Regions from separate parts of the Homo sapiens genome. Here region 2 is linked to region 1. Evidence: fine-mapped expression QTL. Tissue or cell type: whole blood. Region 1 holds a variant in brackets; the other region holds the start of a gene. All regions are shown on one strand. Distances are from middle to middle.

Evidence for each region. PIP is the estimated chance that this variant, and not a neighbour inherited with it, causes the effect.
Region 2: it holds the start of CABIN1, and the variant in region 1 is fine-mapped to the expression of CABIN1 in whole blood (TOPMed, PIP above 0.99).

The regions. Positions count from the first base shown.
Region 1 is chr22:24,212,568-24,220,669 of GRCh38, reverse strand. It overlaps GGT5 (gamma-glutamyltransferase 5), which reads left to right. Exons shown (of 12, transcript NM_004121.5): 12 at 554-1,010. The coding sequence ends at 700. It overlaps LOC124905090 (a long non-coding RNA gene), which reads right to left and starts at 7,082. Exons shown (of 2, transcript XR_007068023.1): 1 at 6,941-7,082; 2 at 4,240-5,444. RefSeq lists an enhancer at 6,515-7,041. The variant A/G (reference allele first, on the strand shown) is at 4,140.
Region 2 is chr22:24,006,446-24,014,547 of GRCh38, reverse strand. CABIN1 (calcineurin binding protein 1) reads right to left here and starts at 3,244. Exons shown (of 37, transcript NM_012295.4): 1 at 3,181-3,244. LOC105372959 (a long non-coding RNA gene) reads right to left here. Exons shown (of 2, transcript XR_001755457.1): 2 at 5,681-8,102.

The DNA.
Region 1 (8,102 bases):
GCCACCTTGGCTCCCAAGTGGCTAAGACTGTAGGTATGTGCCACCACGCCTGGCTTTTTTTTATTTCTTATTTTTTATTTTTTAGAAACAGGATCTTGCTGCATTGCCCAGGCTGGTCTCAAACTCCTGGCCTCAAGTGATCCTCCTTCCTCAGCCTCCCAAATTGCTGGCATTACAGGTGTGAACCACTGTGTCTGGCCTCAGTGTCTAAATCTTGAGAAGCCACATCCTCCATCGAAGGCCCCCTGAACTCAGATTTGCACCTCAAGGCCCTGGTGTCCTTGGATCCAGAACAGACATGAACTTGCATTTGGAGGTCTTCGGGCCTGGGTGGTGTCCTTCGTACATAGTCCCTGGAGGCTGAGCTTGTCCTCTATGGGCCTTTGGATCTCTTCCATGCTCCCATCTGGTCCTCCCCTCTTCCTGTGTCTTCAGGCCCTCTTCCTCTCCGTCTTGCCTTTTGATCATTTTTCTCATTTCTTGCAGAGGCCTCTCCCTCCTGGAGATGGGCTGAGCTGCCCTCCCCTGTGAACCTGCTTTCTCTCCTCTCCAGGAGGTGCAGAGGGGACTCCAAGACCGTGGCCAGAACCAGACCCAGAGGCCCTTCTTCCTGAACGTGGTCCAGGCTGTGTCCCAGGAGGGGGCCTGTGTGTACGCCGTCTCGGACCTGAGGAAGAGTGGGGAGGCCGCAGGCTACTAAGACACTGCTCTGCCCAGAGCTGAAGTCTGGCCCCACCATGAGTCCTGTGTCCAGGCCGGACATGGCTGGGGGACCAACTACTCTGGCAGGATCTGGACCCCTGGCAGGGGAGTCCAGCTGAGAGTGGAAGAGGTGGCGGGGACCAGCTGGGCAGATGAGAGGCTGAGCCTCATCCCTAACCCCCTTTCCCAGAGCCCCTGGTGGTCCTGAACCGGCCCCTCTATCCCTCCGCAGGCCTCTTGCCTGGGGCCACTCTCCCACCCTCTCGATCTGTATATCCTCCAGTCCAAGATTAAAGAGGCGGACTGTGGCCTGATTCCATGGTTCTAAGTGGGGAGGGGACCCTCGGACAGTGCACAGAGGGGTGCATGCACCAGGCTCCTATGGCTCTCCACATTCCACCACCATGGAGGTGGGGAAACTGATGCTCGTGGACCAGCCGAACCTCAGCCAGGCCACCCCTGGACAGAGACAAGCACCACCTCTGCCTCCCAACACCTCACCACTCTGGTGGCCAGGACTCAGCAGCGTGACTGGCCCCAGACCTGAGAGCTGGTTAACTGAAAAATCACACAATTCACAAATTTGGAAAAGAGACTTTTTTCTTTCTTCTTTCCTTTCATTTTTTCTTTCTTTCTTTTTTCTTTGAGATGGGGTCTTGCTCTGTCATTCAGGCTGGAGTGCAGTGGTGCAATCACGGCTCACTGCACCCTCAACCTCCTGGGCTCAAGCCATCCTCCTGCCTCAGCCTCCCAAGTAGCTGGGACTACGGGTGTGCAACACCACACCTGGCCAATTTTTAAAATTTTTTTTGTAGAGACAGGGTCTCGCTATGTTGCCCAGGCTGGTCTTGAACTCCTGGTCTCAAGCCATCCTCCCTCCTCGGCCTTCCAAAGTGCTGGGATTAAGGTGTGAGCCACTATGCCCGACAAGACTTTCTTTTTTTTTTTTCCTTCAACTTGTGTTTTGAGTTCAGGGGCCCATACGTAGGATGTGCAAGTTTGTTACATAGATAAACATGTGCCTTGGTGGTTTGTTGCAGAGATCAACCCATCACCTAGGTATTAAGCTCAGCATCCATTAGCTATTCTTCCTGAAGCTCTCCCCCATCCCCCAACTTACTTTCTTTTTTTTTTTTTTTCTGTGAAACAAAGTCTCACTCTGTTGCCCAAGCTGGAGTGCAGTGGCAAAATCTCAGCTCACTGCAACTTCTGCCTCCCAGCTTCAAGCGATTCTCCTGCCTCAGCCTCCTGAGTAGCTGGGATTACAGGTGCGTGCCACCACACTCGGCTCATTTTGTATTTTTTGTGGAGATGGGGTTTCACCATGTAGCCAGGTTCATCTTGAAATCCTGACTTCAAGTGATCCGCCTGCCTTGTCCTCCCAAAGTGCTGGGATTACAGGTGTGAGCCACAGCGGCAACTTTATTTTTCATAAAGGGTTACAGACTGCAGGGTGGCCATCCGCCACTTTCAAAAGCATAGCCTCTGGCAGAGACCAGAGACAGGCACTTCTTTTTTTTTTCGAGATGGAGTCTCGCTCTCTTGCCCAGGCTGGAGTGCAGTGGCACGATCTCGGCTCACTGCAAGCTCCACCTCCCAGGTTCACGCCATTCTCCTGCCTCAGCCTCCCGAGTAGCTGGGACTGCAGGCGCCCGCCACCACGCCCGGCTAATTTTTTTTGTATTTTTAGTAGAGACGGGGTTTCACTGTGTTAGGCAGGATGGTCTCGATCTCCTGATCTCGTGATCCGGAGATAGGCACTTCTAAGGAGGAGAGGTTGGGGCAGGAGCTGTATGCTGAAGGGGTTGGCTAAACATACATATTCAACATGTTACAGGGAGAGCTATGAATATTCATGAAGGCAGTCTTGACACATGTGTATTGAACGAACATGCATGTAACATAGGACTCATGTTTGCTGTAGGATGAAGACGGTGGAGACTTAACATTAAAATGTATTACAAGGTCAGGCACGGTAGCTCACGCCTATAATCCTAGCACTTTGTGGAGCCGAGGCGGGTGGATCACATGAGGTCAGGAGTTCAAGAGCAGCCTGGCCAACATGGTGAAACCCCAACTCTACTAAAAATATAAAAATTAGCCGGGCACAGTGGCGGGCGCCTGTAATCCCAGCTACTCAGGAGGCCAAGGCAGAAGAATTGCTTGAACTCAGGAGGCGGAGGTTGCAGTGAGCCAAGATGGTGCCACTGGACTCCAGCCTGGGCAACAGAGTGAGACTCCATCTCAATAAAATAAATAAAATAAAATAAAATGTATTACAATTAGGCCCCATCTGTCAAAACATCTTTTCAGGGCCTGAAGGCCTGCAAGTGAGCAACTTCTGAAAACCAGCCAGAGCCAGTTCATGGTCAATGGTCTCTTATCAGGAGAAAGTTACTGAAATCAGTCTCTTGTCCAGTCGGAGCTGTAGTTATGCCTGGAAAAACAGGGGGTCAATAAGTTGGCATCCGTGAGCTGGATGAGCTGCAAAGTGTATTAATGTTGCTTCAGGCCGGTGCTTGTTGCTGCTGGAGGAAAAGGAAAGCCTCATTGCTGTTAGAACATAGTTTATTCTTTAAGTGCAGGGTCCATGAATTAACCCCTGCCTGGCTTGGCCTTGGGTCCTCTTTATAATTTGGTATCTTGTTGCCACAGAGTCTGTTCTGTCATTTTTTTTGAGACAGGGTCTGGCTCTGTCACCCAGGCTGGAATGCAGTGGCATGATCTTGGCTCACTGCAGCCTTCACCTCCCTGGCTTAAGCCATCTTCTCAACTCAGCCTCTCAGGTAGCTGGGACTACAGGCACAAACCACCATGCACGCTGCCGTGCTCAGCTAATTTTTTTTTTTTTGAGACAGGGTCTCACTTTATCACCCAGGCTGGTGTGGAGTGGTGCAGTCTCAGCCCACTGCAGCCTCGACCTCCTGGGCTCAAGCAATCCTCCCACCTCAGGCCCCCAAGTAGCTGGGAGTACAGGTGTGTGTCACCACATCCGGCTGATTTTTTGCTTTTTTTGTAAAGATGGGGTTTCACCATGTTGCCCAGGCTGGTCTCAAACTCCTGGCTTCAAGCAATCTTCCTGCTTCGGCCTCCCAAAGTGCTGGGATTACAGGTGTGAGTCACTGCGCTTGGTCCTCATCCATGTTTCGAATGAAATGATTCTTTGTTGTGGGGGGCTGTCCCCACACTGTAGGATGTTGAGCAGCATCCCGTGCCTCAGCCTGTGTGATGCAGTAGCACTCCCCACCGCACACACCCACTCATGACAACCAAAACTGTCTCAAGACAGTGCCACATCCCCCTGGTTGAGAATGGCCGCTCTAAACCAACAGGCCCCTAACTTCCATAAATAGCTTTGCCAGCTGCAGGGTGGGTACGTGGTGCTCTCTGGGGATCTCACTAGAGGGATCTGGGACTCCTGCGCCTCACTGGTTCCT[A/G]GGAACATCGGCTGTTCCTCCATCACCCCAAATGTGCCACAGAGGTTGTTTTAGTCTGCCTGGGCTGCCATAACAAAAATACTGGAAAGTGGGTGGCTTATAGCATTTTCCAGAAATTTATTGCTCACAGCTCTGGAGGCTGGGAAGTCCAAGATCAAGGTACTGGCAGATTTGATGTCCTGTGAGGGCCCATGTCCTCATACATGGCACCTTCTAACTGACATAGTGGAAGAAGCTAGCTAGCTCTCTGGGGTCTCTTTTATTTAATTACTTTAGAGACAGGGTCTCACTCTGTCACCAAGGCTGGAGTACAATGGCGTGATCATAGCTCACTCCTGTACCCAAGAGATCTTCCTGCCTCAGCCTCCTCAGTAGCTGGGACTGTAGGTGCAGCCCACTATGCCTGGCTTCTGGGGTCTCTTTTATAGGGCACTAATCCCATTCATGAGGGCTCTACCCTCATGACCTAACCACATCCCAAAGGCCCCACCTGCTAACGCTATCACATTGGTGATTAGCTTTCAACACGTGAATTTTGGGGGCATAGTGGGTCCACCTGGATGGTCCAGGATAATCTCCCCATCTCAAAAAATTGAATCACATCTTCAAAGTCACTTTTGCCATATAAGGTCTAATCTTGGGTTCTAGGGATTGGGATGTGGATATATTTGGAGGTTGTATGTGGGAGAGGGGCTGGATGGGGCTAATTCCTAATCTGGGCTTGACTGCATGGCTAGAAGAGGTGGTCTGGCAGACTAGGAGGAAGGTCTGGGAGCAAAACATGGCTCACTTTGAGATGAGGGGGCCAAGCCGGCCCACCACTTGGGCAGACCTGCCATCATCACCGACTCTCGTGGGCCGCTGTCAGAATTCAGGCAGATGCGAGACCACCAGCTTCTCCTGCGATCTGGCTTTGGGAGGCAGTGGAAGACAGATCTTTGAAAGCAGCACGGCTGGGTCAGGGGTCCAGGGAGCAGAACTGGTGGGTTTAGAGAGAAGGGAGTCTCTGGAGTGCTTCAGTGTGGTGGGATCCAGAGGCCGAACTCACACCGTCAGGGCCCTCCGTGTGGTAGCCTCCTGCTAGATAGGCTCCCAGGCCATGATCTCAATGGCTTCAGCTGAACTTCACGCCCTGCAGGGTGACAGAGCTTCTCTCCTTGCAGTTTAAACAAAGTCCCAGATCCAGCTCTCAATGGGGCCCCTCTGAGCAGTCTTCATGGGCAGGGGAGGGCTGAGGAGAAGTGGTTGGCTCAGGTCTGTGGGGCCACCTTGAGAGCTGTTGGTAGCAGCCACCTGTCCCAAACCCTGTGGACCAAAAAGGAAAAGGGAACCAAAGGAGGAGAAGGCTGCTAGGCACAAACCTCAGGTGCCCCACGGTGGGAACCTGGCTCTGTGCTCCCAGACCACACCTGCGCCTGGGCCGGGGTGCTGGGAGGCTGCCTGGAGCTTGCTTGGGAAGGCCTGGCCAGTCTCTCCCATCAGTGCCTCCCAGTGGCACCCAAAGAGCATGATAACTTTGTCCCTGTGTGTCGGGGAGAGGAAAAGGGGCTCCTGTTCCCCCCAGCAGGGGTGCAACCCTGGCTCTGTGGTGCCTGATTCTGACTCACCTGCAGAGTGAGGGTGCACTCCCTGGACCCTTGGCCACCCTGGGACTGCCACCCACCTGAGAAGGCTCATTCACTACTTGTGAACTGATGGATCTCCATGTCGGCTTTGGCCGAGCTGTTTGGAGTCTCAGACCCACATACCCGAGCAACCACCTCCAGAGCATCTGGACAAGGTGCACAGGCACCTTGGACTCAAAGTGCCAAATGGAAGTCGGCCCTGAGGCAGCTGGAAGCTCTGCGGTGCCTGCCTCGCCTCCCTCCTGCGCTACTCGTAGAACCCCCCTCTTCCCTCCAGCTGTGTGGTTCAGCCCTGACTCCACCTCCTTCTCTCTTTTCCATCTTTTTGCTGCTGGCACCACCACAGTCTACTCCCCACTCCTAATGCAATAAGCTTTGGAAAATGCACATCTGACCCTGCCTGGAGGTAGTGCAGAGACTTCCTTGGTTCCTGAGGCCCTGGAGGAAGCCCATTCCTCTCCCTCCCTGCTCATCCCACCCTGGGAGACTTGCCCAGGCCCTGCCCCTACATCCATTCTGCACCACCAGCAGTGCCAGCCAGTGTGCATTCCCAGCCCAGCCAGAGACTCTTACAGCTGGCTTTTGAAACATCTTGTTACACAGAGGAAATCAATACCAAAAGGGCGACATCTTCAACTAACACTGTAATCAATACAGATCTGACCCTTCAGGATACAGCTAATGCAGGGCTCGGAGGAAAATTCATTTGCTTAAATATTACATAAAAAATAAGAATCAAAATAAATAGGCCAGGTGCGGTGGCTCATGCCTGCAATCCCAGCACTTTGGGAGGCCAAGGCAGGTGGATTACTTGAGGTCAGAAGTTCAAGACCAGCCTGGCTAACATGGTGAAACCCCGTCTCTACTAAAAATACAAAAAAATTAGCCAGGTGTGGTGGCGGGCACCTGTGATCGCAGCTGATTGGGAGGCTGAGGGAGGATAATTGCTTGAACCTGGGAGGCAGAGGTTGCAGTGAGCTGAGATCGTGCCACTGCACTGCAGCCTGGGTGACAGAGCGAGACTCTGTCTCAAAAACAAACAGGCCAGGCGCTGTGGCTCATGCCTGTAACCCCAGCACTTTGGGAGGCCAAGGCAGGCGGATCACGAGGTCAGGAGTTCAAGACCAGCCTGGCCAGCATGGTGAAACCCCATCTCTACTAAAAAAAAAAAATTACCAGGCATGGTGGCGTGTGCCTGTAGTCCCAGGTACTCGGGAGGTTGAGGCAGGAGAATCGCTTGAACCCGGGAGGTGGAGGTTGCAATGAGCTGAGATCGTGCCACTGCACTCCAGCCTGGGTGACAGAACGAGACTCGGTCTGAAAAACAAACGAACAAACAAACCAACAAAAATAAATAAAGTATATTATTTAAGAAGTTAGTAAAGTAGGCTGGGCATGGTGGCTCACACTTGTAATCCCAACACTTTGGGAGGCTGAGGCAGGCCAATCATTTGACGTCAGGAGTTTGAGATCAGCCTGACCAACATGGTGAAATCCCATCTCTACTAAAAATACAAACATTAGCCAGGCATGGTGGCGGGCGCCTGTAATCCCATTTATTCAAGAGGCTGAGGCAGGAGAATCACCTGAACCCAGCAGGCAGAGGTTTCGGCGAGCCGAGATCATGCCACTTCACTACAACCTGGGCGACAGAGCGAGACTTCATCACAAAAAAAAAAAAAAAAAAAAGAATAAAAAAGTCAGTAAAGGAAAAATAAAGAAAGCGAAAGAACTCAGGAACAACTGAAGCAGAAACTGATAAATTTGAAATCAGAATAATAGGTCTTTGAAAAAAAAAAAGATAGGCTATTAGCTAGTGAATTGGTACAAATGAATACACAAAATAAGAAATGAGAATGAAGAAATAATCACATCTATAGGGGAACTTAAAAGATTACTCATCTTTATTTTAATAAATTTGAAAACTTGGACATAATAAAAGCCTTTCTAGGACAATATAAATGGAGTTGAGTTGCAATACTTAGGACATACTTAGGCTAAAAACAAATTGTCATTTATCTGACATTCAGATTTAATTGGGCATCCTATATTTTTATTTATTTATTTATTTATTTTTCTGAGATGGAGTCTCACTCTGTCACCTAGGCTGGAGTGCAGTGGTGCAATCTTGGCTCACTGCAACCTCCGCCTCCCAGGTTCAAGGGATTCTTGTGCCTCAGCCTCCCGAGTAAATGGGATTACAAGCACCCGCCACTGCATCTGGCTAATTTTTGTATTTTTAGTAGAGACAAGGTTTCACCACGTTGGCCAGGCTGGTCTCGAACTCCTAACCTCAAATGATCTGCCGGCCTCAGCTTCCCAAAGTGCTGGGATTACA
Region 2 (8,102 bases), 210 kb after region 1:
TATCTTGACTGGATAGGCTAAAGACAAAAAGAACTGATTCCAGAGTTGGGTCAGAGAAAACACAAGATGAGCCTGGAACACCTTGTGGTGTGCCATAAAGTAAGTGCTTGAAGGAAAAAAAAAAAAATGAGGGCCAGTTGATAGGCCACAGAAGCTAACCTGAAGGAGATCCTAACTAAATAGCCAATGCTGGAACAGTAAGCAACAAAATAATGATGATAATGAATTTTAACTCATAGAATATAATACATATCCATGGCCTACACTGACACATAAATAATCAAATAAATAAATAAAAGAGAGAGAGGGTAGTTCTCCTTTCAGTAGAACTTGACTTAATAATGTAGAAGGAAAGAGAGAAATAATTACCTTTAGGCAAACACCACAAAGATCTGCAGATGGATGCTAAAGTCAGGGAGCAAATTTGTGGAGAACGAGAATTTGTGTCCTCTCAATGTATCTCTCCCAAGAGACTTATTAATTAGAAAGGGATAGTAATTTTATGGTGTAGAAACCTGGTAGACACCAAGTAAACCAATAGATCAAGGTAAATATCACCAGTAATAAGACATTCCAATATCTTGGACTCCATGTGATGCACTGAGAAAGACACAAAGATAATGTGTCTTTGTGTTCTGGCCAACAATGCATAATCTCACCCCAATCATTAGAAAACACTGGACAAACCTTTAAATTGAGAGACGTTAGACAAAATAACTGATCACTACTCTTTAAAAGCATCAAAGCCAAGGAAAACAAGAAAAGACTAAGGAAGTGTTATGGACCAAGGAGAAATAACTAAATGCAACATGGGATCTTGGATAGGGTCCTGGAATGAAAACACAACCTTAATTTAAAAAATGGTAACATTCATATCACATCTGTAATGTAGTTAATAATACTGTACCAACACTAGATTTCTGTTCTTGATAATTGTATGATTATGTAAGATGTTAACATTAGGGAAAGCAGGGTGAAGGACATAACAGAGCGTTTTGTATTGTTGCAATTTTTCTCTAAATCTAAAATTAGTTTAAAAAGCTTAAAAAGAGGCCGGGCATGGTGGCTCACGCCTATAATCCCAGCACTTTTGGAGGCCGAGGCGGGCGGATCATGAGGTCAGGAGATCAAGACCATCCTGGCTAACACGGTGAAACTCCGTCTCTACTAAAAAATACAAAAAACTAGCAGGGTATGGTGAGAGGCGCCTGTAGTCCCAGCTACTAGGGAGGCTGAGGCAGGAGAATGGCGTGAACCCAGGCGGCGGAGCTTGCAGTGAGGCGAGATCGCACCACTGCACTCCAGCCTGGGCCACAGGCGAGACTCCATCTCAAAAAAAAAAAAAAAAAAGCTTAAAAAGAAATAACCATTTTGATTATATATTTATCATCTGTAAGCAATGTGAGGATGGTAACCATTTATGTATTGTTCACCATAAATCCAAGAAACTCACTAAAAGGAGCTTTTAAAAAAAAAAAAGCTATTGAGGCCGGGCGCGGTGTCTGACGCCTGTAATCCCAACACTTTCAGAGGCCGAGGCGGGTGGATCACCTGAGGTCAGGAGTTTGAGAGCAGCCTGACCAATACGGTGAAACCCCGTCTCTACTAAAAATACAAAAATTAGCCAAGCATGGTGGCGGGTGTCTGTAGTCCCAGCTACTCGGGAGGCCGAGACAGGAGAACTGCTTGAACCCGGGAGGCGGAGATTGCAGTGAGCCGAGATCATGCCACTGCACTCCAGCCTGGGCGACAGACCAAGGCTCCGTCACACACACACACACAAAAGCTATTGAATAATCATGAAAAAGAAAAATATCTATTCATTTCTGACTCCCAGCCCAGCAGCTGCATTTCCTCAGATAGCAGCACATTCACCAGGCTTATTAGTCTAAGCTAATAAGTTTCCAAACCCCTTAGAATATAGTTTCCATGGCCTCAGAACACGATAAAGAGTAGCACACCTTCAGACCTCAGCACCCTGATCCAGAGTGATAACTGGGGATGTTTCCTGGCCTGGAAGGTGGGAAGCCTATGTCTTAAGCTCAGTGGTGGCAGTGCCCTGGCTGTGTGACTGACTTGACATAGATGTCAGTCTCTCAGTCTGTTTCCCCTCATGTATGAGGCTTTGTACTAGATGAGGGTTCTGCAAGCTAACCAGCCCACCCTTTTTGTACAGCCCACGAGCAAAGAATGGTTTTTACATTTTTTCATATTTGGGAAAAAAAATCATGACACGTGAAAATTATATTAACAATATATAAAATTAAAACTTCGGTCCCTATAATTAAAATTTTATTGCGACGCAGCTAGTCTGTTATGTATTGTCTTTGGCTGTATCCACACTACATCGCTACAGTTAAGTAGACAGAGTATGGACCCCCCAAGCCTAAACTACTATTATGAATACTATTATACTCATTATACTTACAATATAACAATGTAAACACTGATATATTTACAACAAAAGTTTGCCGACCGCTGAACGAGACTGTTCTAAGCATATTCTATTTCTAACCACAATAATCACATAGAAAGAATCTTAGCCACATGGAATCCGACGGTCCCACACTTATAACCTGTAATAACCCAGGTCCTGAAGAGTTAAGTGACTCCCAAAGCCACTTGTGCAGATACCTTGGGAATGCCAGGTGAGTTCCATCTGGCCAGGGCCCGCCTCTTGCGGGGAGGCAGTGAAGCAGAACGGTCAAAATTTTCAGTCTGGAGTCGCGCTCACCCACTGGGTGACTTGGAGCAAATCATTTCACCTACCCGCGGCCTCAGTTTCCACCCCTGTAAATGGCACCAATAACAACACTCACCTCGCAGGGCTGCTGTGAAGGTGAAGCGAAAGGTCGCGAGTAAAGGGTTAGCGCGCTGGGCTTTGCACCCAGCAGACGCCAAATCAATGGTGGCTCCTGCGGTTACTGGGAACCTCCCCGGAGGCCGGAACCCATTCTAGGCACCTCAGGGCGGCGGCGAGAGCCATGAAGAGGCTCGCGAGGCAGCCAGGAAGCCCGGCCTCGGTTTCCCTGACTGGGGCTCTAAAGCTGCCCGCGAAACCCCCAGCTTCCTCACGTAACCCAGCCTCGCGCCTGCAGCCCCTCCGGCCTGTGCCCCGGGCTCTGCTGAGCCTCACCCCCACCCCGGCACCGCCTTCAAACCAGCCTTCCAGGAACTCACCAGGCGTCTCCACAGCAACGGCCAGTCTGTCCCGACCACCGCGCCGTCCGGCTGCGCGCCTGACAACAAGGCGTGCTCCCATTGGCTCCGGTGCCGGTTGTGCCAGCCAATCAGCGGGGGCGCACGCGCCGCTCGCTCTCCGCGGGCTGCTTAGCTGGGGCCCTGCAGACGGCTACCCTTGGGCGGCGCGCGCGCGCGTGCGCGCGTGTGTGCGCGTGTGTGCGCGCGTGCGCGTGTGCGTGTGCGTGTGTGTGTGTGTGTGTGTGTGTGTGTGTGTGTGTGTGTGTGTGTTGCGGGAGTGGAGCTTGTTGTTTCCGGATCCCCGTCGTCAGTCCTAGCGTGCTGGAGGCTTAGAGCACCAGCTCGTAGTCGGACTCTCTTCTCCACAGCTTGCACCCTGAGCAGTCACTAAATGATGGGCTGTGTGTTATTACCTGGGACATGTGCTCTGAAAACAGTGGAAACTTGGGGAACACTTAGAGCGGGGTGTCCAATCTTTTGGTTTCCCTGGGCCACGTTGGAAGAATTGTTTTGGGCCACACATAAAATACACTAACACTAAGGATAGCTGATAAGTTAATAAATAAATAAATAATAAAAATAAAAATCACCAAAAAATCTCAAAATGTTGTAAGAAAGTTTATGAATTTGTGTTGAGCCGCATTCAAAGCCAAGCAGACCAGCGCGTTGGAGAAACTTGACTTAGAGGGAACCAGGGAGGAGGAGCATCCTCATTCATTATATTACCTGTGCCTCTCTTTCCAAAAAGGATGTGAAGCCCAAAAGGAACAGATACAATAGGATATTGAAACAAAAGGAAAAAAAGGAACAAAACCTAGTAAATGAACAAGAAGAGGGGTCATGGGTGGTGTCAGAATTCCAGAGATGAAAAAAGGCGACAGAGTTGAAGGGGTTCTGTCAAGGGTCTTGGGCTGAAAGATGGTACTCTCTTGGGAGCTAGAATAACAATAAAGCATTGTAGGGAAGAACTTTACACTGTGGTTGAATTCATAGCTGCTTGAGTCTTGCACAGATGATTCAAATAGGAGTGAATGTTGGGGGCTTTTTAACCTCAAAGACAGTAACAGCATGGTGAAAAACTCAGTTCAGTACAATAAAGCTATACTGATAAGCTAGAAGTTCTGAAAATTGTTGAGTCACCAACCTTGACTTTGAGTATTGGGGTAAACAGTATTTGGGGGGTAAACAGAAGCATAAACAGATGGTTTCAAAGCTGCATGGATAACCTTCAGCCTCGGATACAGCTTCCACTCAAGCCTTATCATGAAAGATGCGCTGGAGAGAAACAGTTGAAAATAGGTGGGAAGGGTGGTCCAAGCAGCAAGAAAGTTGTGTGGGGAAGGTCCGGAGGTGAGAAACATGCAGATCATGCTGGAGTGTCATGCAGCACAGTGTTACCGTGAGGCAAAGCTCAGGGCCACAGTGGGGAGAGAGCACTCTGGAGAGTTAGGAAGAGGCCAGTCCAAACAAGCAAGCAGAAAACATATTGTTGCAGTCTTGCCCGTGCACCACAATGTACCAGTCTCTCATTGTGGGGTATCACCCAGAATTCTTTGTCTCACGACCAAGAAAATTAGGGAGTGTGGACACAAAGGGTAAGGTTGAAGCAAAAGTTTAATAAGCAAATGAAGAAAGCTCATTGCAGCTGGCGGGGGGCCCAAGCAGGTTGCCCATTATGAGGCTGGGTCAGGGGGTTTTATGGACTGGGAAAGGAAGGAATGTACTGACTGGTCTTGGAGAAAGCACTACTCAGCTTGGCCCCTGGACCTTGAGGGACCAATCAGGAGCTGAAGTGATAGCCTGGCCCAGGACCAATCAGAGGCTCACATTCTAAAGCACGTCCAAGAAAGGAAAGTGCCCACTGGAACCCACTGTAGCCCACCGTGTACATGTCCACAAAAGGAGAAGAGACTATTTCCTGGAAGCCCACTGGTTATACAAAGGACAAAGGCATTTCTATGCTGGGTCTTGTTCCCTTATCAAAGTAGCTGTGGGCATGCCTTAGGCACAAAGATCAAAGGTGTTTCTGTGTTGGGCATTGTTCCTTTATCTGAGTGAGCCAGAGGTTTGTGCAAGTTTCCTTATCTGTGCCTGAAGCCTGATTTTTCAGGCTGTTCCTCTGTTTAAAGGAGTTTTACCAAGGACCCACCTTAATTACCTAACTTTTCTCTCTCAATATCACTCTCACTACACTGAGGATGGCAGATTTAACATGGGGAATCTATATCAAAGACTGTGGCCTTATGGTCTTGGTGAGAGTTAGGCCTGAATCCCATCCATGGTGACCGCAACGATTCATTCATATCCAATGCAAGCATTCCCTGAGGCACTCTGGGAAGCAGGACACCATGAAACACACTGGCAGAGGAATGAGTGCAAAATACTTGGGTCAGGGGTCCAGGGGAAGGAACTCCAAGGTCTAGCTATCAATGAAAGTCCTTAGCAGTGGTTAGGTACAAACACACCAGGCACAGGCATATTCCATTAGAAATTGATTTTATTAACTACATAGACTGCACAGACTGAAAATCTGAATTTGGTGTTTCACTGGTACGCTAAAGATAAGGATCATCAAAGGTTTATGCAGGGAAACAGTGACCACCACGGTGTCCAAGGGTCATTAGAGGAAAATTCTGCATGGAACATGTGGAAAGCTACAGAAATGGAGACTCCCTATAGGCTCCCCCACACCACCCCTACATACTTTGACATTCAACAGACTGATAGGATATTTAGATAAGAGGGTGGGGACCTCATTCATTCAGTTTCAATGCAGTTTCGGCGCTGACATTGCATTTCCAGGTTTGGCATTCTGGGACATGGGTTTTACAAGGTGCCTAGCTACAGAGAATTATCAGCAAGAGTTAACAGAGAAGATGAAGTTCTCTGCCCAGGAATGCCCAGAGAAAGTCCCTGAAGACAAATCTGCCCTGTGCTCTGGCCCACTACAGCAGACTATGGAGAGGAAACAGCTCAGAACTAGTGGAGAAGGGCTGAGCAACTCCTGGAGGTCCAGAATTCTGGGGAGGGCAGGTGAGAGGAGCAGCAATGGGGCTTGAGCTCTTCCTGGACCTGACACACTATCCACTTTTGCAAGACAGAATGACATCCCTTTTGAGCTGTGGATGGTGGAGTTGGCTTGGGGTGAGCCAGGTGGCTGGGCTGGGCCCCATGGAGTGGGTGCCAAGGACCAGGCCCTACACTGAGCCTTCTCTCCTTTCTGCCCACCAAGGGAGCACCTGAAGCCTGAGTTCCTGAAGGTGAACCCCCTGGGGAAGGTGCCTGCCCTCAGAGATGGCGACTTCCTACTAGCAAAGAGGTAATGGTGACCTGGTGCCCACCCAGGGTCAGAGCCAGGATCTGCCTGGGTTCTGGGGCTCAGAGTTGTAGGGGGAGGCAGAGGCGAGAGGGGAGATCTTTCCTTGGCTTGGAGATCTTTCCAAATCACTGAGGCCCCTTCCTCATTTCAGCCTGTGTAGCTCCGATGCAGAGGCTGGACCCAGGGGCACCTTTGGGCTAAAGCTGGAGGCTGGAACCTGGCTAGAGTCTGAGCCAGCTGGAGCTGCCCAGGTGGGGAAAGGACGTAGGTCACCCGGATAAACCTGGACAACCTGAAGCCAGCGGGCAAGGCCCAGGCTTGAGGCTGGCTCCTCCCCAAATGTCCCCAGCTCATCCTTTCAGAGTCCTAGGAGCTGGGCAGACCCAGGGGAGACTCCACATTCAATCCCAGCTCACCACTTCCTCAATCCATGCCCTTGGGGAAATCACAGAACTTTGTGTGCCAGGTTTCTCCTCTGTAAAACGGAGTGGGAGGAATAATGTATCCACCTCCCAGGGCTTACCTGAGGATAGAAAATGGGCACCTAGTGTTCTGGGGCACTAGGAAGGGAACTTGGAGACCTTTTGGGCAGGGCCCACACGGCAGGCACTCTGAGTGGGGACCCTGATGCCAGGGAGTGGGGCCTGGGCACAGAGGGCAGGATGGTATGGTAACTGGGAGGGGAGGTGGAAACATGGGCCCAGGGAGGATCAGAGTTGGAAATGGAGAAACAGAGTGGTTTGGTCGTGGGGAGATACTGCCTGGAGGGAGTTGCAGTATAGGGGAGGTCCTCCCCTGAAGGTGAAGGTGGGGAGAAAACCTGGTCAAATCACCCTGAGTATGAGCAATGAAGCCACCTGGCCCTGACAGGCTGGAGAAAAGATCTCTGACACCCCCTGCCCACAGCATGGTCATCGTTTTATACCTGAGTCGAAAGTACCAGATACGGGGACACTGGTACCCACCTGAGCTGCAAGCCCGCACCTGCGTGGATGAGTACTTGGCGTGGAAGCATGTCACCATCCAGCTGCCTGCCACCAATGTCTACCTGTGCAAGGTGAGCTTCCTAGGCCCTGTCATGCAGGCTGGGGCAGGGGCCTGGACCCCCAGAGATGGAAGGCACCAGTTGGTACATATTACATATTAGCTTCACTTCCACTGTCCTCAGCAGACATAACTAATCTATCACAGTACTCCTTCCCCTAAGCCTGAATGAATCCTTAGAAACCTTCTGAACACAGAGCCCCAGAGGACATCACTAATGAGTGGCAGCCGGGAAGGGATGGAGAGGAGGCCCAAGAGGCTTCCAAGAGTCTGGGTTAAGTTGCTCCTCTCCTCCCAGCCCAGTCTCTCCTGCCCCACTTCTCCGGACAGCCTGCAGATGCTGCACAGCTGGAGCGGCTGTTGGGGAGGCTGATGCCAGCCCTGCAGCACCTGGATTGGGGGGTGCTGGTGGCCAGGCCCTTCCTGGCAATGGAGCAGATCTCCCTGGAAGACTTGGTGCTGACGGAGGTGATGCAGGTGAAGCTTTCCTACCCACCTGCCCTCTGGGGGGACTCTGGGCATGGGGCTGAGCCCCAAC